Regions from separate parts of the Homo sapiens genome. Here regions 1, 2, 3, 4 and 6 are each reported to be linked to region 5. The links are microRNA targets in miRTarBase. Many come from high-throughput screens and were not tested one by one. Region 5 holds a microRNA gene; each other region holds the end of a gene's coding sequence.
The links. Region 5 holds the annotated microRNA hsa-miR-4692 (UCAGGCAGUGUGGGUAUCAGAU, at 1,859-1,880, shown strand). A microRNA usually pairs through its seed, bases 2 to 8, with sites in the 3' UTR of a target mRNA and lowers its output. Matches are read on the target gene's strand: a 7mer-m8 pairs with bases 2 to 8, a 7mer-A1 pairs with bases 2 to 7 and ends in A, and an 8mer does both.

Region 1 (5,473 bases), not on the chromosome of region 5:
CAGTGCCGGGGCTTAGGGTAAGCTCTTAGGGCTGTGGCAGCAAAAGGCTGGCCCTCCACTCTTTCCTGAACCAAGGAAGCCTTCCTAGAGGAGGAGCCATCTTAGCTGGACTTGTTCTGGGCAGAAGGGCAGGCAGTTCAGTGGGAGGAACCCTGCGGAGGGGCTGGAGAAGCGGGGCCACAGCAGGGTGTGCGTCGAGGAACCTTGGGTTGGGAGTGGCAGGGCCAGGCGTGTGGGTGTCAGGAGCCCAGGCACAAGGCCCCAGAGTCCCAGAGGAGACTCAGACGGGCCCTAGCCCTTTCGGTCTCCTGTCTTGAGCCAAGGTGGATCGTAGGGCCTGGGGCAGGGTGGGAAGATAACGGGGCAGCAGGCAGCGGGCACTGGCTGCCAGCCAAGGTCCACCTGTGGTGGATGGAGGCATCTTTTTGTCTTGTTGAACCATGAGCCTTTCCCCTGGTTTCCCTCCACTTCTCCACAGCTCAGAGGGAAATTCAGGAACATTCGGGGTTGGCATCTCGGAGCGGGGGAGGAGCTGGAGCTGTGCAGGGGCCTGTCCCTGTGCGGGCTCTCGGAGCACCCTATCCTGGTGTCTGTTCCTCCCGCAGGGCCCTGAGCACCCCAATCCCGGAAAGCCGTTCACTGCCAGAGGGTTTCCCCGCCAGTGCTACCTTCCAGACAACGCCCAGGGCCGCAAGGTGAGTGCCACCATGCGCCCGGGGGGTGGACGGGGCCCTGACCAGGCGGCAGGAGGCCAGGCGCCACACTGGACTCTGCTTCTGCAGCGGAGGACAGAGGCTGAGGCCGGGCCGAGTGTCTGCTGCTCTTTTCTGGGGACCTGCTGTAGGTACAGGGAGGGCAGCCTGGACCTCACATAGCCTCGAGGGAGGAGGAGAGGCCATCACCTTCCAGCACCCTGCCGGGTGGGGTCAGGAGCTCCTGAGAGTCAGAGTGTGACAGGCAGGGACCGGGGGCTGTGTTAGACCAGGTGACCACGGAAGGCTGGAGCAGTGGTGTCTGCACTGAGACATGAATAGGGACTTTGTGGCTGCAGAGAAGGTTGGGGACGAGCCTTCCAGGAAGGCAGGATAGTGGGAGCCCGTGGTGTGGGTGTGAAGACAGGGTGCCCCCCAGGCCAGCACCAGGGGTAGAGCTGGTTCTGAGCGCCCAGCGAAGCCACGGAGGTGGAGCTGCTGATGGAGCTTTGGAAAAGCTCTGGCCGTGTGAGAATGGGCTTGAGGTGGCGGAGCTGGAGGCGGGGAGAGGGCAGGGAGAGGGCAGGGAGGCCTGGATTCCACCAGGGAGGGTGGGTGGGCGGGCGCTCGTCCAGCAACGGCTGTGGAAGCAGGGAGGACTCGAGCATGGTGCCTGGGCATCAGGACCAAACGGATGGCAGTGCCAGGCACTGAGGCGGGGTGGGCTGGAGCCCAGGTTCATGTGGGATCCTAATGTACTATCCAGTGGGCAGTTTTGGGGTCCCTGCAGATGGGGTGAGTGCCAGGGAGTGGATGAGTCACCTGGGAGGGGCTGGGATGGGAAGAACATGGTGCCAACCCGTGCCTGCTCACTGAGCCCCTCTCACTCTCCGTCCCCTCCTTCCTCTTCCCCCTCCTCCTCCCCGGGCAGGTCCTAGAGCTCCTGAAGGTGGCCTGGAAGAGGCGGCTCATCTTCACAGTGGGCACGTCCAGCACCACGGGTGAGACGGACACCGTGGTATGGAACGAGATCCACCACAAGACAGAGATGGACCGCAACATTACGGGCCACGGCTATCCCGACCCCAACTACCTGCAGAACGTGCTGGCTGAGCTGGCTGCCCAGGGGGTGACCGAGGACTGCCTGGAGCAGCAGTGACCTCGCACCCCAGCACGCCCGCCTCTGGTGGCCACCCCGCTGCCCCATGGCTGGCTGGGTGGCCAGGCAGGAAGTGCCCAGCCCGAGAGGCTGGGAGGTTTGTTGAGGGTGTGGGGTGTGCCCCACCTGAAGCCGGGGCTCCCCCTGCCTGCCTCTCTCTCCTCCTCCCCTCTGGGAATTGGGCAGCCCTGGGCAGTTGTACTCATGGGGGCTTAGGATGCAGCTACCTCAGTGCGCAGGGCCCGTCTGTCCTCTGGGGGCTGCTTCGGGCCCGCGGTGCTCGGGGCCTGGTGTGGGGCGAGTAGAGACTTCCCCAGCCTGGACGGGCGTGGGTTCTGGGTCAGCTTCTTTTACCTCAATTTTGTTTGCAATAAATGCTCTATAGCCAAAGCCAGCAGGTCCTGAGTGTGTGCATGCATGCGTGTGTGCGCACTTGTGTGTGTGTGTGCCCCCCCCCACTTCCTGCATCAGAGCAAGAGGGGGTTCCATGGGCTCATCGGCTCCCATTTGATAACTGAAGAACAGGCCACAGCCAGGCATGGAGGAGCCCACGGTACTGGGCTGTGCGGCCTCCACATGCCCTACACTGATCTCCCTGCCATGCCAGAGGCTGTCACCCCAGAGCACCAGCTGTCACCTTTGTGGCCCTGGGGTTGTGGTTCACAAAATGCCATTCACTTAGGATTGGAGCTGCTGTCTCTGTTTTACTGATGTGGAAACAGGTTCAAAGGTGCAATGACTTGAACCAGGCATGGTGACGCATGCCTGTTATCCCAGCTGCTCAGAAGGTCGAGACAGGAGGCTCACTGTAGTCCAGACATTTGAGACCAGCCTGAGCAAAATTGCAAGACCTCATCTCTAAAAAAAAAATTAGGCCAGGTGCAGTGGCTCACGCCTCTAATCCTAGCACTTTTGGGAGGCTGAGACAGGTGGATCACCTGAGGTCAGGAATTTGAGACCAGCTTGGCCAACATGGCAAAACATCGTCTCTACTGAAAATACGAAAATTAGCCAGGCGTGGTGGCATGCAGCTGTAATCCCAGCTACTCAGAAGGCTGAGGCAGGAGAATCATTCGAACCTGGGAGGTGGAGGTTGCAGTGAGCCAAGGTCGTGCCACTGCACTCCAGCCTGAGCCACAGAGCGAGATTCCGTCTCAAAAAAATAAATAAATAAGCCAGGCATGGTGGCACCTGTCTGTAGTCCCAGCGGTCGGGAGGCTGAGGCGGGAGGATCGCTTGAGCCCAGGAGCTCAAGGCTGCAGTGAGCTATGATTGCACCACTGCACTCCAGCCTGGGCAACAGAGCAAGATCCCATCTGTAAAATCATAATAAAAAGAGACAGATTGAATGCTTGGCTAGGTAGGTGGAATCCAGGCCAGGGTTGATCTGACACCATTCTCAAAGTTCTAATTCTTCCTCCTCTTGGAAGGAGGATCAGATATCCCCAGTCAAGATCTTGCTGCTTGTCCGGGAGGAGTAGTTTGGGCCTGGGACCAGAGGGGGACGGTAGGGCCACCTCATTCATGGCTGTGGAAAGCAGAGGCACTTTGGCCTTGGTGAGCCCCTTTCTCTGTTAAACCTATTTTACAACATGTTGGTATAAAGATGAATATATTAATGTATACTAGAGGATTTTCTCTCACCTAAAGGTTCATTTTTTTCCCTTCTGATTTTAAAAGAAATTAAAAATGTATGTCAGCTCTTATAGTGTGGGCCCAGGGCACTGTGCCTAATGGTAAGTTGGTCCAGGGTAAAAAGGGTAGTGAGGTCTCTCTAGAAGACCCCAGTGTTGGCCGGGTACAGTGGCTCAGGCCTGTCATCCCAGCACTTTGGGAGGCTGAGGCGGGAGGATCACAAGGTCAGGAGTTCGAGACCAGCCTGGCCAACGTGGTGAAACCCCCTCTACTAAAAATACAAAAATTAGCTGGGCATGGTGGTGTGCACCTACAATTCCAGCTAACTTGGGAGGCTGAGGCAGGAGAATTGCTTGAACCCGGAAGGCAGAGGTTGCAGTGAGCCGAGATCACGCCACTGTACTCCAGCCTGGCGACAGAGCAAGACTCCGTCTCAAAAAATATATATAAAAACAAAACCATGAGATGCCACACTACACCCATTACGATGGCTATACTAAAACAAAAAGCAGTGTTGGAGAGGATGTCGAGAAATGGGACCCTCATCCACTGCTACTGGGAATGTAAAATGCAGCCACTTTGGCAAACAGAACCTCAGAAAGCAGCATTAGCATATGACCACAGTTCCACTCCTAGGTACATTCTCAAGAGAATTGAAAATGTGCCCACAGAAGCCTGCGCACGGATGCTCATGGCAGCATTATTTACAGTAGCCCCACAGTGGAAAAAAACAAATTCTGCATCCACTGATGAATGAAAGTGTGATACGTTCACAGGATGGAATATTACTCAACTGTGAAAAGGAATGAAGCAATCACAGTCGAGGAGGAACCTTGAAAAAGTAACAAAAGCCAGACACAAAAGGTCACATGTTGTGTGACTGCATCCTATGAAATGTCCATTACGGGCAAAACCATGGAAACAAGAAGTAGCTTAGTCGTCACTGGGGACGGGAGAATGGAGAGTTACCGTTTAATGGGTGTAGTGTTTCGTTTTGGGGAAGTAAGAAGGTTCTGGAATTGGTGATGGTTGCACAACCTTGTTGATATACTAAAAGCTGTTGGGCGCTGTGGCTCATGCCTGTAATCTGGGCACTTTGGGAGGCTGAGGCAGGAGGATCCCTTGAGCCAGGAGTTCAAGACCAGGCTGGGCAACACAGTGAGACCCTGTCTCTACAAGAAATATATTTTTATTATATTTTTTTTGAGACAGAGTCTCACTCTGTCATCCACGCTGTAGTGCGGTGGTGCGATCTCAGCTCACTGCAACCTCCGCCTCCCGGGTTCAAGTCATTCTCCTGCCTCAGCCTCCCGAGTACTTGGGATTACAAGCACGTTCCACCACACCCGGCTAATTTTTGTAATTTTAGTCGAGACAGGGTTTCACCATGTTCGCCAGGCTGGTCTCGAACTCATGACCTCAAGTGACCTGCCCACCTCGGCCTCCCAAAGTGCTGGGATTACCGCCGTAAGTCACTACACCCAGCCTCAAAAACTATATTTTTAAAAATTAGCAGCTGGGCGCAGTGGCTCATGCCTGTAATCCCAGCACTTTGGGAGGCCAAGGCAGGTAGATCGCGAGGTCAGGCGTTCGAGACCAGCCTGGCCAAGTTGGTGAAACCTCATCTCTACTAAAAATACAAAAATTAGCTGGGCATGGTGGTAGGTGCCTGTAGTCCCAGCTACTAGGGAGGCTGAGGCAGAAGAATTGCTTGAACCCAGGAGGTGGAGGTTGCAGTGAGCAGAGATCACGCCATTGCACTCCAGCCTGGGCGACAGGGTGAGACTCCATGTCTCAAAAAAAAAAAAAAATAGCCAGGCACGGTGGCTCACGCCTGTAATCCCAATACTTTAGGAGGCCAAGGCAGGAGATTTGCTTGATCCTCCCAGGAGTTAGAGATCAGCCTGGGCAACATAGCAAGATCCTGTTTCTATAAAAAATACATTTTTAAAAATTGGCCAGCCGGGCGCAGTGGCTCACACCTGCA
Region 2 (5,473 bases), not on the chromosome of region 5:
GAGACAAGAGACATGATCATATTTATTTGTTAAGTAAAGGACTTTGGTATCAATGTAGAGGAAGGATGGGAAGAGGTCCAGGATACCAGTTAGAAGGCAGTTTAAATAGTTCAGGGAGATGATGGTCCAAATTAAGGCAGTTTTGGTATAAATGGGTCATACTGGAAAAAATTATGTCAGAGAAGGTATTCATGAGACTTAGTCATATAAAGGGCAGAAAGATAACTTGGGGGAAAAATGATCTAAATCATTATGAGCCTGAGATTAAAAGGGTACCATTAATAAAGAAGGGATTCTTGGAGGAGGTATTTAGTAGAGTTTGTGTTAAGTCTGTTGAATTTGAAGTGTTCCTGTGACATCTAAATGACAGAGTCCAGAGAGCTAGAATTTTGGGGTTAGAGCTCAGAAAAACGGTTGAGACTAGAGATAAATATTTGGAAGTCTTCAGCATAGTCAAGATAGGTGAAATTTCAGAAGTGGACAAGGTTGCCTATAGGGAGAGAGTATAGCATGGAAGAAGAGACAGCTCAGGACGGAACGTTATAGTTGAGGAGTTGCCAGAAAAGAGGCTGAGAAAGCCATCCGAGATAGAAGGACCACACTGCAGAAGCTAACGAAGGAAGTAGCAATTGTTCAGAAAGACCGTTTAAAGGAAACATTAAGTTTCGATTATAAAGAAGTCACCAGGTGCCTTCTGAAAAGGCATTTCCAAGGAATGAGAAACAGGAATGAAATCCTAGTGGTTGGGGCTTGGGTAGGAGGCAAAGACGTATAAGTGAGGCACAAAAACTGCTCTTGAGAAAGATTTTGTAGTGAAGGAAAGAGGAGAAATGTGGCTTGAAAGGAAGAAGTTTCTATTTCTCTAGGTCATTGGTTTGCAAAGCACTTTTACATCCACGGGGTCACTTTATTTCCAAGGCAACTCTGGAAGGTAGGAAGGGCAAATAGTTTATACTCTTGGGAACAAACCGAGGTTAAAAAGAAGTTAAAAGGCTGGCCCAAAGTCAATTATAGCAAATAAGGGGAAGAACTGGATTTAGAATTCAGGTCATTTGACTCTTATTCCAATGATCTTTCTACTGTGCCCAAACAGAACATTTCTAGAGTATTTGCTCTATTTGGATATTGGATACTAGGCAGCATTGAGCTCCTTGTTAAAGGGTTTTGACCTCGTCTGGGGTTAATGGCAAGCTGCTGGAAGGTTTTATGCCAGGGAATGCTATGTTTCAGTTAATGCTTAATGGAAACAAATCTGGCAGTGAGGTGTAGGATGTGTCAGCAGAACAGACACCTGGTGGTGGGGGGGTTAGAAAATGAGGACAATTAGCTTCAAACAGAAACACAACTTTTGATACGCATTCAATCACATGCTGAGAAAGTGATTTCCCTTCAGGTCTCCAGACCCTATTCTATTTGTATTCTTCAAGAGAAGGTCTCAGTTTGCCAGTGTATTTTTAACATGTTTCAAATACCCTCTCTCTCTCTTTTTTTTTTGAGACAGACCCAGGCTGGAGTGCAATGGCACGATCTCCGCTCACTGCAACCACCGCCTCCTTGTCCGCAAACAAGCTTTTTGAGCTTTGTTTCCACCATTCTTTCCATGTCATGCACCTTAGTTCTTTGCTTCTATAGTTCACTCTGCCTGGAATGTTCTTCTTCTCCTCTTTACTGGTGACAATTACAGGGTCAGGGACATTGAACAAGAAAGTCAATACTTACTTTCCAGTTCTTCTTCAGAGCCCTCTACTTCCAACATTCCTTTTCCTTTAAGATAACGGAAAAGGGAGGAACACTGAAAACACAATTTAGGAATTTAGTAAAATATGAAAAGGAAACAATAAAACTCAAACTTAAACCTCCCGAGTAGCTGGGATTACAGGTATGCGCCACCACACCTGGCTAATTTTTGTATTTGTAGTAGAGACAGGGTTTCACCACGTTGGCCAGGCTGGTCTTGAACTCCTGAGCTCAAGTGATCCGCCTGCCTTGACCTTCCAAAGTGCTGGGATTACAGGCATGAGCCACCTCACCTGGCATTTTGAGTACTCTCTAATCTCCCTTTTGAACAAAGAAAGAACAGGACTCAGGCTGAGAATCTTTGCAAAAACTTGCATCTTGCTAAAACTGAATTACATTGTTTTCTGTTCACTCTGTTTTTATGGTTACTTTCTACTTACGACAAGTAGGATTGATTTATCATTTATTGTAATTACAGAAAGTTTACTACACATCTTGGTAAAAAAAGTCAAATTGGCTGGCTGAGGTGGCTCACGCCTGTAATCCCAGCACTTTGGGAGGCCGAGGCAGGCAGATCACGAGGTCAGGAGATTGAGACCTTCCTGGCTCAATCTCTACAGTGAAACCCCATCTCTACTAAAAATACAAAAAATTAGCTGGGCGTGGTGGTGGGCACCTGTAGTCCCAACTACTAGGGAGGCTGAGGCAGGAGAATGGCCTGAACCCGGGAGGCAGAGCTTGCAGTGAGCTGAGATCGCACCACTGCACTCCAGCCTGGGCGACAGAGGGAGACTCCGTCTCAAAAAAAAAAAAAAAAAAAAAAAAGTCAAATTAAGGAAAAATAAACCTAAGACAAATGGTGTGCCTCTATGGAGAAATTATATAACTGTGTATTCTAATGACTAAAGTTTGGGAAATTATGGTCTTGGAGAGTATTGCAATAGGAGTAATAAGGGTTCAGACCACAGTGGGATGTGGTAGTAGGTAAGGACCAGAAAAGAAGGCTCTGACAGATGTTTTAAGGGAGTTAAAGGAGAGGGAACTTGTTCTTTCTTTGGGAGTATTTTCTGCCTCATTTCTCAGTATGCTTTTGACCGTAACAGTGAAAAATAAAAAAGCCTTATACAGAACAATGAATTTATTACCTCAAATATCAAGAGGCCCTGAGGTAGGGTGGCTCCAGGAATGCTTAAGTGAGTGCTTCTTTGACATCACTAAGCACTTGGCTTCCATCCATCTTCCAACCTCACCAAAAAGGGTTGTCCTCATGACTACAAGCCGGCTGACATGGTGCCAGGAATCTCGTCATGAACATATGGTGTTCTCAGCGCAACAAGAAGACATCTCTTCTTGAACTGAAGAGTGAGGGTGAAGAAAACTTTCCCTGAAGGCACCTCCACCAAAAGATTTTTCTTCAAGATTCACTGGACAAAAATACATCACATATTCATGCATAAACCAATCACTGCAAAGGGGAATCAAATTACCATACCTAACATAAACTAATTAGGATTTATTCTCTGAGCTAGGGAGATCCTTTCCCTGAAGAATGGAGTTCTCAAGATAAGAGGGGCTCTGCTAACAAATATGGTTGGTAGGCAGTCAACCATGACTTTTACAGCTCCTGTGGAGAGCTGCAGGCTTTCTCTGGATACCAGTGGTTCTGAAATTCTTCAAATTCACCCTTGAACATACGTGGCAAATTCTTGAGACTTGTGGTTTTATTTATTTCTGACAATGTTACTTAGCTCTTCTTTCCATGTGTTGGGTTAAGGCAGAACGAAATACTTCTACTGCAAAATCAACTTCTGGTTTAGTGATGCACATTGAGGGCGCAATGCGAAATGTCTGAGGAGACACCAAAAAATAAGAAAACAAATCATCAGAGAATCAAATATGACTTTGAGGAAATGCACTAAACTAAAAATCCAAAACCTTGTGTTTAGGATGTTTCTCATGTTTCTCTCAGTTTGGTTCCTCCTCCATCCCCAATGCTGAATCCAGGCCATTCACCCTCCAGTCTCCATACAAACCCTTGTACAATTTGGCTCTGCCCCTTTTCCTTTTTGTCATACATTTACCTCCTGGTCATTCTACACCTTCACTGAAGTCTTAGGCCCCTCGCTATACTCCATTTCTGCCCAGGGTGACTTCCATGTCCATATGTGCAACCCAGCAAACTCACTTCTCACTGCCCTTATTGCCACAACTCCCAGAATCTTTATGTCCACCCTTCTGCAACCATTCATACCCATGGCCAATGCCATGAGCCTCCTCTTCACCAGGAACAACTCAATTTCTGATTCCCACTACAGCTTTCCTTTTCATGAAGACTTCAGAATCCTCATTCACCCATTGTTTTCAGGTCTATTGCTCCACTCAGGTCTCCTCCTTCCTTTCTACCCAGCTCAGAACGCAGAGTTGAATGAAGTAGGCTCACACTTGCCCCTCATTTTGCTTGCATTTCTACCCTTTTTCTGCTGCACCCACACCACAGCCAATCCCAGCGCTAATGAAATATTTTATTGAATGGCTTTTTTCTAATCTAGATGGCTGAGAAGAGTTAGAGAAAAATCACACAGCTAGGCTGAGTGATGCCGCTAGATATTCAGGGTCTCCAACTTCTGTGGGTCACCCCAACTTTTCTTGTTCATTGTCAGCGTCCTTTCTCAATCTAAACCTTTATCATTCCTCTCAATTTCCTTACTCAACTCCTGCGCCTCTCCCTCTATTTCATAGACAATCATGCCTCATACTTCTCAGAAAATTGAAGCTGCCACGCAAGACAAACTTGTTTGCTCTCACATCCATTTTTATAAACTTTCCTAAAGGCTCAGAGAACAAGGTGTATTTGCTGTTCAACTCCAAATTGTCCACCTATGCCCTTGACCCTGGATTCTCCCATCTCCTTCACTCCAGGAAACGCCCCTTCAACTTCCCCTTAGCCTATAAACAAGCAGGCTTAAAGCTCTCATAACCCCAATCTAGACCACACCAAATACAAATCTTTGTTGACCCCCTTGTCCCCTATGGCTACCTCGCAAATGCTTTCTTCCTGCTTTTAGCCACATCACTAAAAAGACTGGTTGGTGCTTATTGGCCATTATTTATTACTTTGCCCTTCCCCCATTCACATCTCAATTGGTTGCAGTCTGACTTCTGCCTCATCAACCACTCTACTAAAGTTACCTGCAAGTGTGGAATCCACTGGTCATCTTCCAGCCCTCATTCTCTCTGGCCTTCTCTGCACTTGACTCTTTGGAATTCCCCCACTTCCTGAACCTCTCCTGTCTCTTTCTTCCATGACTTCACACTCTTCTTATTCTCTTCATACCTGTCCACGCTTTCTGCCTCTACCTGGGCAGCTTTTTCCTTCTCCTGCCTTTTATTATTATTACTGTTATTATTTTTATTTTATTTGAGACAGAGTCTCACTCTGTCGCTCAGGCTGGAGTGCAGTGGCACAATCTCGGCTCACTGCAACCTCCGCCTCCCAGGTTCACACAATTCTCCTGCCTCAGCCTCCTGAGTAGCAGGGATTACAGGTGTGTGCCACCACACTCAGCTAATTTTTTATATTTTTGGTAGAGACAGGGCTTCACTATGTTGGCTAGGCTGGTCTCAAACTCCTAACCTCAAGTGATCTGCCGCTTCGGCCTCCCAAAGTGCTGGGATCACAGGCGTGAGCCACCGTGCCCGGCCTCTCCTGCCCGTTAAAAGTCAGTGTTGTGCAGGT
Region 3 (5,052 bases), not on the chromosome of region 5:
AGGAAACACCTGTCTATCACCAGGCATGGGTCCAGAAAGTGCTCTGGGCAGGGCTTAGTGGGGCAGGTCCTGGTGGTAGGAGGGGCTGCCTAGCCAGGGACCCTGGGGCCCCCCACTGTACTCCAGGCCTACCTCTGTGATGCTGCTGCAGGGGCCTGGGCTGGCATTATGACTCTGGGAGCTTCACCCACGTGAAGACTCACAGCCTCCAGCTGGGCAACATAGTGAAACCCCCATGTCTACCAAAAGTAAAAATATTAAGCGTGGTGGTATGTGCCTGTAGTCCTAGCTACTCCAGAGGCTGAGCTGGGAGGATTGCTTGAGCCCAGAAGGTTGAGGCTGTCCGAAAAAAAAGACTCACAGCCCCTCTCTTTTCCCTGTCCCCCAGAACGCTGCCAAGAAGAGAGACCAGGAGCAAGTGGAGCTGGAAGGCGAGAGCTCCGCACCTCCCCGCAAGGTGGCGCGGACCGACAGCCCAGACATGCACGAGGACACTTAAGACTCTCAACTCCACAGGCGCCTCCTGCCAGGTCTGCTCCTCGGTCGCCCACCCGCCTGCCCGCCATGTGTAAGCACCCCGCCCGCCCGCCTCCCTGCCGGCCCATCCACACCCTGCGTCCACACCACTTCCAACCTCATAGGAGCCGATGTATTTATTTTCCTTGAGTTTTTATTTATGCTGTAACCTGTATCAAGCGTTGGTTAAAGGGGACATCAGACCCAGTAGTGTGATGTTGGTAGATGCTTTTTAAAAAAAACAACATTGTCCCCCCGACCCCCGCCTTCCATCGGGCCAGTTCCCCGATTCCTGCCCCCAGTTCTCCAGAGAACCAGAGTGTGTCTGTGAGAGTCTCTAGCGGGGGCTTTACTGTGGCCGGGCGACAGGGGCGGGCCCGGGGTGGCCTGACCTACCAGGACAGCCGAGTGGCCTTCTCCCCCCCAACACCGGTCCAGGCCATTGAGACTCGGTCTTGTCCCACGCTTCGCCCGGAACTTTCCCATGCCCAGGCCTCACTCAGCGTGCACGCACGTTGGGGAGAAGTCGGCCCTTGGGATCTTTCTCTTGAGTCATTTTATTTTTATCATGGACTAGTGCGTGCTCCGTGTCCACCCCAATAAAAGGGTCTTTCCTACTTGACCTCGCGTCTTTGCTCCACACACCTTGGCTGCAGAGGACGGAGCCCCTGGGAGTCATCCCTGTTGTCACCAAGAGGAGTGAGAAGGGCCCCCCACGCCAGGGGCCCCAGGACCGGCTGGATTCTCTCGTGGGCTTGCTGAGGCCACCATGTTCAAGGCCAAGACCTGCCTGGACCATCCCCTCTGCCTCTCCTGTCAAGGTGACCCCAAGGACAGGTCATTCCTGAGAGACGGTCCATGGTGCCAAGGATGGAGCGGGGTCAGCCCCCTGCCTGGGATACCGCCAAGCAGGGCAGCGCACCTGTCAGACACCGCAGAGATGGCCGGCCTCATCCGGGGGCCTGGGGTCTCTGGCCTCTGCTGCTCCCCTGAGGCATGGTGACAGTACAGACGGCATCTGGCCGGTCTTGCTGTCCTAGGTGGTGGCCTCACCCTTGCTGGGTCATAGAGGAGCTGTACAGAAGGTTGGCACCTGGCAGTTGGCATGTGCCATGGCCGCTCATGGGGACCCCTCTTCCGCCAGCTGGGCTGGGTTTGGGGCTGAGCTTGGGTATGTAGGGGTGTTCGGGCTCTGGGCAGAAGGTTTGTGGCCCTGACCACTGAGCCTGGGGCTGGGGGAACACCGCTTCTCCCCTTATTGCCCCCACTGGTGGTGGTGGGGATCTCAGTTTTCTTTTGTTTTGTTTTGTTTGTTTGTTTGAGTTGGGGTCTTGTACTCTTTCCCAGGCTGGAGTGCAGTGGCGTAATCACAGCTCACTGCAGCCTCGACCTCAAGCCTTCCTCCCACCTCAGCCTTCCAAGCCGCTGGGACCACAGGCACCCACCACCATGCCTGGCTAATTTTTTTTTTTTTTTGAGATGGAGTCTCGCTGTGTCTCCCAGGCTGGAGTGCAGTGGCAAGATCTCAGCTCACTACAACCTCTGCCTCCCAGGTTCAAGTGATTCTCCTACCTCAGCCTCCTGAGTAGCTGGGATTACACGCGTGCGCCCCTACACCCAGCTAATTTTTCTATTTTTAGTGGAGACGGCGTTTTGTCATGTTGGCCAGGCTGGTCTCGAACTCCTGACCTCAGGTGCTTCGCCTGCCTCGGCCTCCCAAAGTGCTGTGACCGCACCTGGCTGCCTGGCTAATATTTTAAAAATTTTTTGTAGAGACAGGGTTTCACCATGTTGCCCAGGCTGGTCTCAAACTCCTGGGCTCAAGTCATCCACCTTCCTCAGCCTCCCAAAGTGCTGGGGTTACAGACGTGAACCACCGTGCCTGGCAGAGGTCTCTGTTTTGAGAGCTGAGTCTGAGGGCGTTGGGATGGTGTAGGGTTGGGCCACAGAGCTAGCAGACACTCCGGGCTATGGAGGGTCCGCCTGCCCCAGATTCCACTGTGGAGGGCCCTGCCTGTGTCAGACCCTCGGGCCTAGGCGGCCCATCTCTCCCAAGGACGGAGAGTGCCAGGGTGGGCTCCCGTCCTACACAAGGAGTGGCTGACCAGGCCCAGGCACAGCACAGCCACCCTGCTGTACCTCCCAGCTCCCGGCAGTGTCTACACCACAGTGATGGTGCTACAGGGGCCATGTGGTCACAGGACAGGTGGTCAGGAAATGCACACTTGACTGCGGTCGATGGTGCCGGGTCCGGCTGAATGCCCTGGAGGCTCCCAGGCCAGCTGGGGAGTCCCAGTCCCCAGGGTTGGTGTGACCTGGGCAGGCCTGCGGTGTCCATCTGTGAATGACTGAGATGGTGGGACTTCAGCTTCCAAGGCCAGGGGCCAGAGTGGGAGCAGGGGGCACTCCCGCCTTTCCCCTCGGCCTGTCTAGACCTCTCTGGCTCCCAGTTTCTGCTTTGAGTGGCTGGGGGCTGTCTCCTGCCTGTGCTGTCTGCCCGTCGCTCTGCAGGGCTGCTGGGCGGGCACCTCCTTCCCCTCCCCTACCTCAGCTCCCTCCTTTGGGGTCTGAGGGCTGTGCCCCAGCTTGCCTCCCTGTGGCCTCCCCCTAGAACCCCTGGGTCTGTCGGGACATGCCCCACCTGGCACACACACCCTGTGTAGCTCCCACTGCCTGTGGGAGGACGCTGGGCCCCTGAGCCGGCCTCTGTCTACCCCTCCTGCCTTTGGGGTCCCCTTTACCCCACTGTTCCCCCAAACTGCCTTCCACCTTCTCCGCCTTTGCACAGGCTGTTCTCCTGCCTCCAGTGAACTCTGACTTCTCCACAGCCTCCCAAAGGGCCCCTTGCTCACACTGGCCCAGCCCTGCAGCATGGCCATGTTGGTCTCTGAGCCTTAAGCCTTTGGATGTGGACACATTTGTCCTCTTCCTGAAAAATGTGAGGGTCTGAGAGGCCACGTTCCTGTTCCTGAGTCATACGACAGAGTCCCAGTGACTTGGGTCTGATGTCTGTCCCACAGTGGGACATCCCTGCTGCATCCCAATGCCACCCCGTGTCCTGGGGACACCCAAATGTGCCATTCTCTCAGTATCACAAGTCGGGGACTGCAGGAGGCTCAGGTGCCAGGTGCCTTCTGATGTTCATGCCACAAGCTCTTCCCACTGTCTCTGGCTCCCCAGACGATGTTCCAGGAGGCGGGTGTGCCAGAAGGGGCCACGTCTTGCAAACCACCGCGCTGTCCTCTTTGAGAAGGAGTCTTACTCAGGACTGGGGCCTGTGCACACATTGTCGCCTCTTTTCAGCACTTAGAGATTCCTTCCTTTGTCTAGTGGCTGAAGCCAGGGCTGAAGTTGGCCTCCAAATCTGGGCCGTCTCAGAGGCGGCGCAGCCTGGAGTTTTCCATCTGTGGCCAAGACCCAGTTTTTGGGAGGAGGCCCTCATGGGTCAAGCCAGCCTGTACCAGGATGGGGGGAGGGGGTTCCCAACCTAGGCCCCAGCCACCCAGACTCCCCCACCCCCACTCCCTTTTCCACTGCTCTGACCTCGGGCACTGTTGAAATATAGTTTTTATTGCATTTCTGCCGTTTTACAAAAATATGACAAAATAAATTAAAAACAAATAAATAATCGCCTGTTCTGTGTGTGTGTGTGTGTGTGTGTGTGTGTGTGTTTTCTGTTGGATTTGTGGGTTTCCTTTCGTTTGGAAAGGAAAACGGCAGATGGGGGGCACCGACCAATACTGGGGGCCCTCGGGGGCTGAAGCGCATTTTGCATTTTGGAGACCGGCCGCCCCTGTGAATGACTGATATTGCATATGAGAAGAGAAGGCAGGGCGGGTAGAGCTAATGCCAGCCGCTGGGCCAGCACACGGCCTGGGGGCTGGGGCTGGGGCTAGGGGAGGGCGCTGGGGTCTCGAGGGGATCCGAGGTGGGCGGTAGCGGTGGGGGCGGGAGGCTGTAAAAGCTGGCGTCTCCCGGCAGGGGCTGGGGGGCGGGTGGGGGCCCGGCCATGGCACAGGGTGGGCACTCGGCAGCGGCCAGGGCCTGGCGGGGGGCGGCACCCTCGCCCCCGCAGCCCCAGGGCCCGTCCCACTGCCAGCAGCCTGCGGGCGGTGTCGGGGGCCGGGGCAGCGGCATTGGCGGCGGCGGCGCGGGGCTCCGGCTGCGGCGGGTGCGGAGGGCAGGGGCGCCCACGGGGGCCAGCGCTGTCCCTGCGGAGGCGAGAGGGGCCGTTCCGGGGGGATGCCGCCCCCGCCGGACCCCGCCGGGCTGGCAACCCTGCCCGCGCTCCCTCCCGGGCATCCAGGCACATAAAGGCCTTATTGCTTCTGATCAGAGACTGAGGTGGGGCGGCCCCCTGGGCGGCTTCCGGTGCATACCCTGCCTCTGGGCACGGCCCTGCCGGTCACAGGGGGAGGACAGTTTGAGGAAGTCCCTCTGGCTTCTGACCTATGGCCCTTGTGCTGCAGCTGCCACCTGTTGGGCTCCCTGGGAATGGGGTTGCTGGAGCCCAGGCTGGGATTGGGGCAGGGGAGG
Region 4 (3,000 bases), not on the chromosome of region 5:
AGAAGAAAATAATTGTAATCTTATCACTCAGAGATAAATTATTAACATGACTTTTTCTCTAATGGATATAAGAATAAGGGCACACTTAAGTATTAAAGTTAATACAATGTAAACATATGTTAAAAATATTTCTTGTGTATTTTTAAAGTCCCTGCACTAAAGAATTAGTAGTGGTACATGCCTTGTTCAAAGGTAGTGAAGAGCAATGTTTGTTTGCCTAACATGTCCTAGGTTGGTCTGTTAAATACACTCTCTCATTTAATCTCTGGTTCTCAGGTGATTGTTATGAAGAGGTCTTTGGGTGTTGGCTATGCTGCAGTGGACAATCCAATCTTCTACAAACCTAACACGGCCATGCTTCTAGGTGATGCCAAGAAAACATGTGACGCGCTCCAGGCGAAAGTTAGAGAATCCTATCAGAAGTAAATATTAAGGATCAAGCTGTTAGCTAATAATGCCACCTCTGCAGTTTTGGGAACAGGCAAATAAAGTATCAGTATACATGGTGATGTACATCTGTAGCAAAGCTCTTGGAGAAAATGAAGACTGAAGAAAGCAAAGCAAAAACTGTATAGAGAGATTTTTCAAAAGCAGTAATCCCTCAATTTTAAAAAAGGATTGAAAATTCTAAATGTCTTTCTGTGCATATTTTTTGTGTTAGGAATCAAAAGTATTTTATAAAAGGAGAAAGAACAGCCTCATTTTAGATGTAGTCCTGTTGGATTTTTTATGCCTCCTCAGTAACCAGAAATGTTTTAAAAAACTAAGTGTTTAGGATTTCAAGACAACATTATACATGGCTCTGAAATATCTGACACAATGTAAACATTGCAGGCACCTGCATTTTATGTTTTTTTTTTCAACAAATGTGACTAATTTGAAACTTTTATGAACTTCTGAGCTGTCCCCTTGCAATTCAACCGCAGTTTGAATTAATCATATCAAATCAGTTTTAATTTTTTAAATTGTACTTCAGAGTCTATATTTCAAGGGCACATTTTCTCACTACTATTTTAATACATTAAAGGACTAAATAATCTTTCAGAGATGCTGGAAACAAATCATTTGCTTTATATGTTTCATTAGAATACCAATGAAACATACAACTTGAAAATTAGTAATAGTATTTTTGAAGATCCCATTTCTAATTGGAGATCTCTTTAATTTCGATCAACTTATAATGTGTAGTACTATATTAAGTGCACTTGAGTGGAATTCAACATTTGACTAATAAAATGAGTTCATCATGTTGGCAAGTGATGTGGCAATTATCTCTGGTGACAAAAGAGTAAAATCAAATATTTCTGCCTGTTACAAATATCAAGGAAGACCTGCTACTATGAAATAGATGACATTAATCTGTCTTCACTGTTTATAATACGGATGGATTTTTTTTCAAATCAGTGTGTGTTTTGAGGTCTTATGTAATTGATGACATTTGAGAGAAATGGTGGCTTTTTTTAGCTACCTCTTTGTTCATTTAAGCACCAGTAAAGATCATGTCTTTTTATAGAAGTGTAGATTTTCTTTGTGACTTTGCTATCGTGCCTAAAGCTCTAAATATAGGTGAATGTGTGATGAATACTCAGATTATTTGTCTCTCTATATAATTAGTTTGGTACTAAGTTTCTCAAAAAATTATTAACACATGAAAGACAATCTCTAAACCAGAAAAAGAAGTAGTACAAATTTTGTTACTGTAATGCTCGCGTTTAGTGAGTTTAAAACACACAGTATCTTTTGGTTTTATAATCAGTTTCTATTTTGCTGTGCCTGAGATTAAGATCTGTGTATGTGTGTGTGTGTGTGTGTGCGTTTGTGTGTTAAAGCAGAAAAGACTTTTTTAAAAGTTTTAAGTGATAAATGCAATTTGTTAATTGATCTTAGATCACTAGTAAACTCAGGGCTGAATTATACCATGTATATTCTATTAGAAGAAAGTAAACACCATCTTTATTCCTGCCCTTTTTCTTCTCTCAAAGTAGTTGTAGTTATATCTAGAAAGAAGCAATTTTGATTTCTTGAAAAGGTAGTTCCTGCACTCAGTTTAAACTAAAAATAATCATACTTGGATTTTATTTATTTTTGTCATAGTAAAAATTTTAATTTATATATATTTTTATTTAGTATTATCTTATTCTTTGCTATTTGCCAATCCTTTGTCATCAATTGTGTTAAATGAATTGAAAATTCATGCCCTGTTCATTTTATTTTACTTTATTGGTTAGGATATTTAAAGGATTTTTGTATATATAATTTCTTAAATTAATATTCCAAAAGGTTAGTGGACTTAGATTATAAATTATGGCAAAAATCTAAAAACAACAAAAATGATTTTTATACATTCTATTTCATTATTCCTCTTTTTCCAATAAGTCATACAATTGGTAGATATGACTTATTTTATTTTTGTATTATTCACTATATCTTTATGATATTTAAGTATAAATAATTAAAAAAATTTATTGTACCTTATAGTCTGTCACCAAAAAAAAAAAATTATCTGTAGGTAGTGAAATGCTAATGTTGATTTGTCTTTAAGGGCTTGTTAACTATCCTTTATTTTCTCATTTGTCTTAAATTAGGAGTTTGTGTTTAAATTACTCATCTAAGCAAAAAATGTATATAAATCCCATTACTGGGTATATACCCAAAGGATTATAAATCATGCTGCTATAAAGACACATGCACACGTATGTTTATTGCAGCACTATTCACAATAGCAAAGACTTGGAACCAACCCAAATGTCCATCAATGATAGACTTGATTAAGAAAATGTGCACATATACACCATGGAATACTATGCAGCCATAAAAAAGGATGAGTTCATGTCCTTTGTAGGGACATGGATAAAGCTGGAAACCATCATTCTGAGCAAACTATTGCAAGGACAGAAAACCAAACACTGCATGTTCTCACTCATAGGTGGGAATTGAACAATGAGAACACTTGGACACAAGGTGGGGAACACCACACACCAGGGCCTGTCATGGGGTGGG
Region 5 (5,465 bases):
GCGCCGCCGCCGCAGCTGCCCGGGAGACCCGGGGCCGCGCGGGGGCTCTGGTGGGAGGAGCAGTGGGTCCCGCCGCCCGGCCCCGCCCCGGGCCCCAGCCCCGCGCGCCCCTCCCGGCTAGGCTGGGGGCTCGGGGGCTCGGGGGCTCGGCGGCCGCGGCTCGGGATTTTCCAGGCTGCGGAGGTGAAGCTGACGGATCTCCGAGCCCCGCCCCGCCCCACCCCGCAGGGTCCTAGCGCCCGCCCCCGCCGGCCCTGGGAGGGGACCCTGCGCGCGAGGGGCAAGTCCCCAGCGGGGACAGGGAAAGGGGTGAGGAGATGCCAAGACAGAGTGGGCTCTGCGAGGAAGGGCCACGAGGTGCAAGAAGAGGAATTCTGGAAGTTAACGGTGAACCCCTTCTCTCCACCACCTCCCATACTCACAGGTACACACCTCTGCAACAACCTACAGTATTTACACACAGGCACGCTGTCCCCAGAACAACCCAGAGACGCCCCCATGCAATACCCCAGAGATCCAAAGATGGGCACACACCCCCATGACAATCAAGAGACTAACTCGCAGGGATGACAGCCCCACAGCAGCTCAGAGATGCCCACAGCTTGCATCCCCCACCAAGCTAGAGGCACACCAAGCCTACACACACCCAACCCCATTCCCACTGGGCTGTGCAAACCCAGCAGGAAGCCGATCCAACCCACAAGGCTCAAGGTTCACAAGCTGGCCAGATGTGGGCAAAATCTCCACCCCAGTCTCACTCCTACCTGGGAGCTTGAACCGGGACTCCCTCCAGCCCCACACTCTGGCCCTTGTCCACCAGCACCCCTTCTCAGCATGCACACAACGCGCGTGTACACACACACACACATGCACGCACACACGCACACCTGCTATGGACTAGACTAGGCTCTCAAGAGCATCTGGCCCAGGGCTCTGGGCTCTCTTACCTCCCCAGGCAGAGTTGGCCAGAGCTCCATAGCTACCTGCACCAGCGCTCCTGCCATCCCTTCCAGCCAGGGAGGCTCCCCCCTGCCCCCTGGGTCCTAGTGCCAGCTCTTCCTCCATCTGCTCTGTGTGAACTGAGGCCAGTAGCTCAACTTCTCTGAGGCCAGGCCAGGGTGAGTGTGGCAGTCTGTCGCAGTGACTGTGGTGAGCTCCTCTGGATGAGCAACTAACAGGGCCCAACAAGAACCTGCCACGGTCATCCTGACCAGCACGCAGATCTCAGCCTCCTCCCACCTCCGTTCCTGTCTGTGCCCCGCTGCCTCCTCCTCTCTGGTCCTTAGTTTTCCATTTCCAGAAAAGGGAATCAGAATGGATAACCCTAAGGTGCCTCCTAGCCTCACCAGCCTAGAGCTCTAGGGTGGAACAGATTTTCTTAAATGTGCTAAGAAAAAAACGAGGAGTCGAGGATTTGTCACGGTGCTTCACAAATAGAGGTGTTTCTTCCTGAAGTGCTTAAAGCACTGAGATGTTTGTAAATTAGGCCACATTTTAAAAATGAGTGGGGGTGAGCGGGGAGCTATGATGGCAAGTGACCCTAAAGGGCATCCTGCAAAGTGAATCCTGGACAATGTGCTGCAGGTCCTCATGAGGCCTGTGTGAATGACCTTAGATCTCCAGGCCTTCCATCTGCAGTGTGGGAGGCACAGTCAGATAATCACCCCATCCCTTCTAAACCACACTCCTGAAAAGTGTCTGGGAATGAGTAGGTGGCAGGGGGCTGGCTCTGGGCTCAGGATGCCCAGGCTCTGATTCTCTGCTATCTACCTCCTCTGCCTCTAACTCTAGGCAGGTCACTGCCCCTCCCCAGGCCTCAGCAGTTTTACTTGATACCCACACTGCCTGGGTGGGACACTCAGGCAGTGTGGGTATCAGATAAAACCCAAAGGGGACCCCATTAGAGCCAAAGCCTGCTTTGCTTTGTGAACTGTATCCTCTTGGATCTGCCACGAGGAAAAGAGGTGGCAGCACTGGCCTGGTGGCTCCTGCCTTTTTAGGGCCCCAATAAAACACACCTCAGCAGATAGCAGGTACCAGGGCAGCAAACCTCTCATACCCACCATCCAGTCCAGGGTAAAAAAGACAAGGCCAGGAGGTAGCAGTGAGGGCAGACTGATAGAAGGACTTCCCCACCCTAGAGAGCTGCCAGAGAGATAAAAACTCAGAGAGGTGCAGATGGCAAGAATGAAACCATCACTCAGAGCCAAACACAGAAGAACCAAGAATCTTTTGGATCTTGGGTCAGTAAAGGTGGGCGACCTGGCAGGCAGCCAGGCCCTGGGCTCATCCCCTGGGTCCTAGGTTTAGGCCAGGCTACCTCGCCAGCAGGTGGGTAGAAGGGTATCACCTCATTCTACTCATCATTAATTTGCCCTTGCAAATGCCACCCCTCCCAGGAATTTCAGTATCTCTGGCTCTGGGTCTCATGAAAACCTCTCAAACGTGACAAAGCCCATTCATATCCTTCTCAAAACACCCCTAAGCAGCCGAGAAGGGCCCCATCTGCTCCAGAGCAGAAGAATGAGCCCAGGAGGGCTGGAGGGGCTCTGGGAGAGGAGTCTGGGGAGGACCCACAACCTAGCAGCACAAAGGGCCTGTGGAGCTGGGTTCAAATCCTGGCCCTCTGATTTCCTAGCTGTGTCACCAGAAGCCGGTGACAGGCCTTCTCTGAGCCCCAGTTTCCTCATCTGGAATAATAATACCTATCCTCTGAGAATTGTGGCAGGGAAAAGAGTTGTATATGTGCCAGTTTCACCCCCAGATAAGTAACTAAAAATATAACTGGTGGGGGTGACTGGGGCAGGGAGGAATACACTGTCCAAAAATGCATGGTTCCAACAAAAAGTGTTAAGGTAACATCTTTACATGATGGTTTGGCAAGTTTTGATTCTCATGGAAGATCAAACAATGGAAACAGCTTTGGCAAAGCATGACCCCTGCTCTGCCCACTGCAGTCCCCTGCCCCAGATATGGTCCCCTCCACAGGAAGTGAATTGAGATGTCTCTCTGAGCCCCGAGGCCAGAGTCCAGGTCTGGCTGCTCTCTGGGTCCCAGTTCCAGAATGGGGCATCACGGAGCAGGAGCCAGAGTGGGCATAGAAGGTGAGACTGTGTACGAGAAGGCGCTTGACAAACTGAGAAGCGGCGTGGGAATGTGAGGCATCATTACACAGGGCACTGGGCAGGCCTGGATCTCACACGTGCCCCTCGCAGACAGAGCAGCTGAGGTTGTGGGGGGCACGGGGCACCCCTGCATCACACAGCAAGTCAGAAGCCCTAAGGGGACTCCAGTAACTCAGGATTGATCTAGACTCCTGCAACCGGGGAAGGGAGCACTTGGAAAGAGTCACACCAGACTTTTTGTTCACTACCCCCTGATGGCTGTTGGGGGAGGGGTCAGGGCACCTGCCTGGAGCCAGCCACCCCATGACCTGGTCCCTAACACTCCCCTCAACTCCCCACAGCAGAACTAAAGACCCCTCAGACTAAGGGCATCTGGCCCCACCCCCTCCCTGTACAGATAGAGAAACAAAGATCCTACTAGCAGGGACAAAGCAGAAATAAGAACCTAGGGGCCGGGTGTGGTGGCTAACACCTGTAATCCCAGCACTTTGGGAGGCCGATACGGGTGGATCACCTGAGGTCAGGAGTTCAAGACCAGCCTGGCCAACATGGTGAAACCCCATCTCTACTAAAAATACAACAATTAGCCAGGTGTGGTGGCACGCACCTGGGAGCCTACTCGGGAGGCTGAGGCAGGAAAATCGCTTGAACCTGGGAGGCGGAGGTTGCAGTGAGCAGAGATTGGGCCACTGCACTCCAGCCTGGGTGACAGGGCGAGGCTCTGTCTCAAAAAAAAAAAAAAAAAAAAAAAAAAAGGGAATAAGAACCTGGGCCTCTCAGCTCCTAACCTGAGGGTCCTGTTCCTCCCACCCCGTATTACATACCACACCTTCCACTTGCCTGCCGGTGACCTTAACACGGTCACTGCCCTCTCTCAGCCTCAAGAGTCAGCCTCCCTCGGTGGCCCCCAACCTGCCCAGTGTCCTGGACAGTGAGGGGCCTGAAAGTCTAGCCTTGCTCCAGGATGCCCACCCCTACTCACCATCTAGTTCGACAGATGATGGCTGCCTTGATCTCCCCTCTGGGAGATGATAGGGTCCCACCCCTACCCCTTCTCCCCCACCCCCTCCTCAGGGGTAACCCTGCCTGCCAGTTTTGATGGAGCAAATTCACAGGTTGTGCAGGGCAACAAGGCAGTGTCCTGGCACTGTTCTAGAAGATTAGGCAGTGACCTGTGTGATGTCACCAGGAAGCAGTGACATGGAGGAGGAGTTCCAGAGACCCTCAGGGTGCAGCAGGCCGGGCGCGGTGGCTCACACCTGTAATCCCAGCACTTAGAGAAGCCAAAGCAGGCAGACTGCATGAGGCTAAGAGCTCAAGACCTGGCTGGGTAACATGGTGAAACCCCGTCTCTACTAAAAATTTAAAAATTAGCTGGGCGTGGTGGTGCACACCTGAGGTCTCAGCTAGTCAGAAGGCTGAGGCAAGAGGATGGCTTGAGCCCGGGAGATCAAGGCTGCAGTGAGCTGAGATGTTGCCACAGCACTCCAGCCTGGGTGACAGAGCAAGACTCTGTCTCCAGTTAAAAAAAAAAAGGAAAAAAAAGGTTCAGCACCAAGAACTCTGAGGCCCCCAGGGCTGGCTCGGCCTTGAGAGGGATGTGTCCTTCACAGTGGCGATAGGTGTTCCATCCCAGTCCCACCTGGAGCCGGATCTAAGTGTTTGCCCAGGGTGGGTCTCATACCTTGCTGGGCCTCACTGAGCAAACAGCTCACACCTGCCCTTAGGGAGCTGCTGGAGCCTCAGGGAGCCACACTGTAGTGCGCAGCCTCAAAGTCAGTGCAGGTCAGGGTCACCCCCACCTGCACTTCTCCTAATGTCCTGTCACAGTCCCATACAGAAACACTCCACCTTGGTATTACACAGGGCCAGACCTACACAGCTACACACACTTGATCATGCCAGGCCACACATGGCACCAAAGTGGAGTTGCCAGATAAAATACAGGACGACAGCCAGGTGCAGTGGCTCACACCTGTAATCACACCTATAATTCCAGTGCTTTGAGATGCTAAGGTGGGAAGACTGCTTGAGGCCAGGAGTTGGAGACCAGCTTAGGGAACATAGTGAGACGCCATCTCTACAAAAAAATGTAAAACTTAGCTGGGCATGGTGGCACATGCTGGTAGTCCCAGCTACTAAGTAGGAGCCTGAGGTGAGAGGATCACTTGAGCCCAGGAGTTCGAGGCTGCAGTGAGCTATGATCGTACTACTGCACTCTAGCCTGGGTGACAGAGAGAGACCCTGTGTCCAAAAAAAAAAAAAAAAAAAAAGGAAATGGGACAGCTGAGACACAGAGAGGCTAAGTAACTTGTTCTAGACCACACACCACTAAGTAAG
Region 6 (5,473 bases), not on the chromosome of region 5:
CCCCTTCCCCTACCCTTGCCAACAAGCAAGACCTCCCTCTAAAGAAAGAGCATGAGCTGGCCCCAGCTTGGGCTGTGGCTCATGTAGCAGGGTCAGATTAAACAAGCAAAATCCAGTTGACCATTCAACTCCCAGTTGGGAGGGCCTTGGCAACCCTCTTCTCGAAGGCCATCTGATTCATAACTTTATTGTCAACATTCTGGTCCATTGTTGGATAGCTCCTGTTAGTGCAATGTTTTCACAGCTAAAGTTGAATTTTCACTGATTGGTTTTGGTCTTGACCTCTGGGATCATGTTGAATTAAAAAAAGAGAAAAGTCCTAAAAATATTGGGGCAAGGCTGGGCACAGTTGGCTCGCTCACGTCTGTAATCTCAGCTCTTTGGGAGGATGAAGTGGGAGGATTGCTTAAGGCTAGGAGTTGGAGACCACCTTGGGCAACATAGCGAGACCCCCGTCTCTACCAGAAAAAAAAAAAAATTAGCCAGGCGTGGTGGTGCATACCTGTAGTCCCAGCTACTCGGGAAGTTTAGGCAGGAGGATTGCTTGAGCCCAGGAGTTTGAGGCTTCAGTGAGCTGTGATCATGCCACTACACTCCAACCTGGGTGACAGAGGAAGACCTTATCTCTAAAAAGTAAAAAAATTAAAAAAAGATATTGGGACAGAGGGCACATAGGCCTGATTTGAGCTCTTTTCTTTTTTAAAATATAAATGGATGCAATAAGTTCATTGGAGCAGCCAATGAATGTACTGATTTGATTCTATAAAATGTACAGATGGGAGAGATGAGAGTTTGAAGAAGCACAGATGGAGAAGTCTTTTCATTTTGTCACTGAGCAGAGACCTGGAGTTACTGAGGGTGTCAAGACCCACAGATGCAAACACAGAGAAGAGTGGTACAGACACATGGCAGGTGGCAGCTGGCAGGGAATGTGTTTCTGCAGGGCTCAGATATATGAGGAAGGACACGCACAAAAGGGCTTGATGAGGATTTCAGCACAAGTCCCTGGTGTCCTCCTGTGGGGACAGAGCTGAGTGTTCAGGGATGGTTGAAGACCCAGTGATGTTTCCAGATGACTGATGCAAGCTGCTCCTGCCACTCCTCAGCCTTAAAGAATGTCACACCCCTACCTGGTTTGCTGAATCAGGCATTGCTGTCTGAAGTCTGTGTGGGGCTAGATCAATTGAGCCATCTTGTACCATTGCTTCTTTTGAAATTACTTTCCCATCACTTTGCAAAATGATATGTTTGTTATTGGGGACCTAAAAATGTAGCTATTCTAACTCTGCTTTTGTGGGTTCTCATATTGAGAGTTTTGTACAGAGCTCTGAGCACAAATTCACATCTAGAGTCCTGCTTTCCAAAGCATCTGCTGGCCTCTGTCACATTTTTTTCAGCCAAAACAGCCTTTCAGGGCCACCAGGTGATGTGGTTAGAGTACTTAGGATAAACCAATAGGACTGTATAATGAGAAGCTAGCTTTGGTCACTAGACTGTTATGTAAAATATTTGAAATTTGTAGGCCTTTCAGCTGCTTGATGAAATTCAAGAATCACTTGATTTAGATGCAAATCGTATGTTTGAAATGTGCACATGGGATTGGTTTTGGCTTTGTATTTTTAGAGGAGTTCTTGTGCCCAGGTAGCCCAGATCCCCACTGGTTGCTGCTGCTAAATCTGGGGGTCTTAGGTAGACAGCCCACTGGCTCCCTCAGCGGAGAGCCTAAGGTAACAGAAAATGTTTTGGTCCACACTCTGCCATTGCACTTGGTGAGATTCACTGGTGGAGGTGCTGATCCTTCCTTGACCAAAGCAGAAAGGACCCAGTTTCCTTAGAGACTTGTGGGCTGTCAGAACCCAACTCAGCCTTCTTCCTACACCATTGTTGTGCTGTGGCCTGCAGAGCCAGGAGAGAACCCAACACCTTCTTTAGCTGAGGATCCTGCTTTCTTCCCCACTGTATCTCACACGGACAGAAGACAAGTTCACTCATTCCTCTTGGGTCCGAGTTCTCTGTAATGGTCCACTTAATGAACAGTGAACCTACTTCTAGAACCATCTTTTGAACAAGAAAACAGTCTTTTGTCAGATAAATACATCAAGGCAAACCTTGAAGACAGCATGAGAAAATCCAGCACTGCTGGACTGGTGCCTTGCAGGCAGGTGGGAAGGAAGGGGAGCCAACTGCCTGTAGTTCCCACCAGCAGTGCCAAATGACCAGCCATCTCCCCAGCCCAGGTGTGCACAGGGCATCATTGTTCAGCCCTTGGGTTTGAGTAGAGGGCTAGGCCATGTTTGTCCAATATGGAGAACAGGGGTTGGCCTTACTCCTCCATATTCCATACTGAATAGCCTTCCTATGAACTAATTCTGGCTGCGTGGCTGAAGAACGTAACTAGATGGTTTGCTATGATGTTGACATGAGAGCCAGCTGAGGCTGAATGGCCAGCGAGGCTCAGTGGACATTGTTTCACACCTCCCCACAAACCATCTCTTGATGCTCCTGCTGGAGATAGACTGTGGGGTGGGATGAACCATAGGGCTGTGCTAGTATGGTATTTTTATATTATCATTAGAAGAGAAGCAGAGGAGGATGGAAGGAAAGGCAAGAGGAGCAAGTCTCTTAATGTGGCACAGTGTTGAAAGGAAGTACATTGTTGCTGACGTTGGTTAAGACTATGATGAAAAGATGTCAGAAGCTGCACTGTGAAAGCAAGGCTGTGACATTTGGAGAAGGTGGTTTGTGTCTGTGGACTAGCTCCCCACTGACCATCTCACAGATCCACCCACTTGTGCTCCCCTGAATCTACCTCCTCTTGGGGTTCGAGTGCAGAACTCTTGCTCTTCATTTTCTTCTTCTTTTCAATCCTGTTATTCTTAACACTGTATTTAACTCCAAGGAATTTTATTTTGAATCACAACTCTAAGATCTCTTGTTTGGAGGGCAGTTTCAATTTATTAATGAACCAGAGAAAACAGCACAAAATGACTGAAAAGCCAAGAAAGATGGGTAGGGGTTCATTCTGCCTGATTCTCCCGTGCATATGGAATAAAGCCTCCCTGAGCTCCATGCCCCTTAGATAAGGGAAGGCTGGTCCTGCAGAGGGAGCACAGTGCTTCTCTGTTTCTATATTGTGGATGGAAAACTCTCTCTCCCCACCCCCCCATGGAAAGTTTCCCTCTGCAGGATCATCAACCTGAACATCTAAGACCTCAAAAACACCTCTTTTTAAAAAAATTATTATTATTATTATTATTTTTTAGAGACAGAGTCTTGCTCTGTTGCCCAGGCTGGAGTACAGTGGCGTGATCTCAGCTCACTGCAGCCTCCATCTCCCAGGTTCAAACAATTCTCCTGCCTCAGCCTCCTGAGTAGCTGGGATTACAGGCGTGTACCACCACGCCTGGCTAATTTTTGTAATTTTAGTAGAGATAGGGTTTCATCATGTTGGCCAGGCTGATCTTGAACTCCGGACCTCAGGCAATCTGCCCACCTCGGCCTCCCAAAGTGCTGGGATTACAGGTGTGAGCCACCATGCCTGGCCAAAAAGACGACTCTTGAAACACATTTTTCCAATTTGCAGCTATACTTTTTCACACCTTTGGATTTCACTTTGTCTGAAGCAGTGCATTTAGAGAGAGATTGCAAACCCAGTCCATTAGATTCTATTGTTCTTTTCTCCTATGCTGCTTAATAGTCTACATCCAGGTTTATCCCCTCACACTCAGAAGACAAAATATTAAGACTTTAAATTAGAGATTCCAAAAGTATGAACATACATCATCTCATCTGGTCCTCACAACAGCCCTGTGAGGCAGGCAGGCAGGCATCATGGTTCCAGAATGCAGAGGACAGAGTCCTAACTGGTTAAGCTGGAAACCAAATCCATGTCCTCTGTCTCCTGGTTTAGTGCTCCTCCCACTCCATGAGATGAACAGCACTCACTGTAATGAACAAAACAGCCTTTCTGCTTAGAATAGATGAAATGTCCTTTGGGCTTGCACACAGGTGATTTTAAGTAGAAACCTTGCTAGAAAGCTTGGAAGAAAAACACACCTGAGCTCAGTTCAGCATCAGAATCAGCATCAGAGGGATGAACAGGAAAGAACATGGACATCTTTGACAAGGGTTTCTGCTTATGTTCTTGATTCTCACCCAGATCATGGTTGAGTGCTGTAACTTTAAAGCAGCAAAGTCCAGTAGGAGGGAAGGCATTTAAAGGACTTTCTCATCTAGCAACTTATTGATTCCTTCACAAATCCTCTTGAGGTTGGGCCTACAGTCTCCATCCAGACTATAGAGGGTGGAGAGGAACTCCACATCGGCAAAGTGGTTAAAGACGTGGTTGATGCGCCCGTGGGTCCTGGGCGTCAGGTGCCGCTGCACCAGTTCATGCACCAGGTCCTTGCACTCATGCAGGAGATTGGAGAGCACGTTCCTATCGAAGGTGTATTCCACCTCATAGAAGCTGACAATGGTCATGGCGGTCTGGTTCAGCTTCTTCCGGAACTTCTCCACAATAACCAGCTCCTCTTGGCTAAACTGGTTGTTCCGGTAGAGGATCCCGATTTTGATCGCCACCTTGATTAAGTCTTTCATGATCTTGTGGGCTTCCTTCTTGTTGTGTGTGTGCTCTTTGGTGACTTTGTAGAGCTCATCAAAGATCTCGCTGCTGGTGTCATCAATCAACATGTTGGCCACAGTTTTGCTGGCTATTTTGCTCAGAATCTTCTTCTGGGCTTGAAGCGCAAGACTCTTTGAACTAAAAACATCAGGACCTATGGTAAAAAAAATATATATAAAAGTTTTAGAAATATAAGAACTGTCTGTTACTTTTCCACAAGTAAAACACACTAACTTGAACTTATGTTCTTAGAGCAAAAACTCATGTCTTTATATTCCCTCGCTCCCTAACTAAACCCCACCCCAGCCTGGTTCCCCCACTTTCCTCTCCACATGATATGCTTTGTTTACCCTTTTTAATCCTCTAAACTGTGCTTATGCTCCTTCCTCTGCTGGAGGTCATCTCCTCTTATCCAGGCCAAATCTTACCTTTTTAAACCTACTTCATTCATAAAGCCTTCCTGATTCTACTAGCTCACAGAGAACACTCTACCACTGCTGTCACGCTGGAAACCATTCAGCTTTGCAAACTATACAGGAGCAAATTATTGCTTAATGGCACGAATGTAGCCCCATTGTCAACCCCATTCCCAGGGCAGACATGGATAGTTGATCATGACAGTCATTTTGACTGAGTCTCAGAACCCACATATCATTGGGTCTAAGAGGTATTCTTTTGCTTTTGAAATATTGAAAATTGGATGGGTCTTTCAGTTACTGTTGCCAGGTAGCTGTTGTGCTGTGGTTGTTATTACCTGTGTGCACATCAATTTACACAAAAGTTGTCAGAGATTTGGGAGAAAGTCAAGAGAAATTTTTGTAAGAAATGTTGCCTCCTGAATACTCTTGA

Region 1: miRTarBase lists DTX2 as a target of hsa-miR-4692. Seed matches in the 3' UTR shown: 7mer-m8 at 1,996-2,002.
Region 2: miRTarBase lists AGXT2 as a target of hsa-miR-4692. The part of its 3' UTR that is shown has no 7-base or 8-base seed match.
Region 3: miRTarBase lists DDA1 as a target of hsa-miR-4692. Seed matches in the 3' UTR shown: 7mer-m8 at 1,303-1,309, 7mer-m8 at 1,406-1,412, 7mer-m8 at 2,257-2,263, 7mer-m8 at 2,527-2,533, 7mer-m8 at 2,997-3,003 and 7mer-m8 at 3,186-3,192.
Region 4: miRTarBase lists NNT as a target of hsa-miR-4692. Seed matches in the 3' UTR shown: 7mer-m8 at 1,305-1,311 and 7mer-A1 at 1,771-1,777.
Region 6: the mRNA of TNFAIP8L3 is a reported target of hsa-miR-4692. Seed matches in the 3' UTR shown: 7mer-m8 at 3,820-3,826, 7mer-m8 at 3,816-3,822 and 7mer-A1 at 3,477-3,483.

The regions. Positions count from the first base shown.
Region 1 is chr7:76,503,751-76,509,223 of GRCh38, forward strand. DTX2 (deltex E3 ubiquitin ligase 2) reads left to right here. Exons shown (of 11, transcript NM_001102594.3): 10 at 606-695; 11 at 1,624-2,241. The coding sequence ends at 1,851. It overlaps LOC124901675 (a long non-coding RNA gene), which reads right to left. Exons shown (of 2, transcript XR_007060388.1): 2 at 4,431-5,473. Among named protein-coding and RNA genes, the nearest start is that of UPK3B, 4.1 kb to the right of the region's middle. RefSeq lists a silencer at 5,184-5,389.
Region 2 is chr5:34,995,242-35,000,714 of GRCh38, forward strand. It overlaps AGXT2 (alanine--glyoxylate aminotransferase 2), which reads right to left. Exons shown (of 14, transcript NM_031900.4): 14 at 2,861-3,585. The coding sequence ends at 3,478. Among named protein-coding and RNA genes, the nearest start is that of AGXT2, 50 kb to the right of the region's middle.
Region 3 is chr19:17,319,158-17,324,209 of GRCh38, forward strand. DDA1 (DET1 and DDB1 associated 1) reads left to right here. Exons shown (of 5, transcript NM_024050.6): 5 at 389-4,141. The coding sequence ends at 499. It overlaps ANO8 (anoctamin 8), which reads right to left. Exons shown (of 18, transcript NM_020959.3): 18 at 4,066-4,727. The coding sequence ends at 4,360. Among named protein-coding and RNA genes, the nearest start is that of DDA1, 12 kb to the left of the region's middle. RefSeq lists enhancers at 2,199-2,815, 4,357-4,406.
Region 4 is chr5:43,703,979-43,706,978 of GRCh38, forward strand. It overlaps NNT (nicotinamide nucleotide transhydrogenase), which reads left to right. Exons shown (of 22, transcript NM_182977.3): 22 at 277-3,000. The coding sequence ends at 426. Among named protein-coding and RNA genes, the nearest start is that of NNT-AS1, 100 kb to the left of the region's middle. RefSeq lists an enhancer at 2,189-2,358.
Region 5 is chr11:72,781,708-72,787,172 of GRCh38, forward strand. MIR4692 (microRNA 4692) reads left to right here and starts at 1,823; the gene lies at 1,823-1,885. The region is part of intron 1 of STARD10 (StAR related lipid transfer domain containing 10); the gene reads right to left. RefSeq lists silencers at 164-283, 4,754-5,089 and enhancers at 632-1,334, 4,386-5,384, 5,385-5,465.
Region 6 is chr15:51,053,666-51,059,138 of GRCh38, forward strand. It overlaps TNFAIP8L3 (TNF alpha induced protein 8 like 3), which reads right to left. Exons shown (of 2, transcript NM_001311175.2): 2 at 2,936-4,778. The coding sequence ends at 4,216. The region is part of intron 1 of MIR4713HG (MIR4713 host gene); the gene reads left to right. Among named protein-coding and RNA genes, the nearest start is that of MIR4713HG, 19 kb to the left of the region's middle.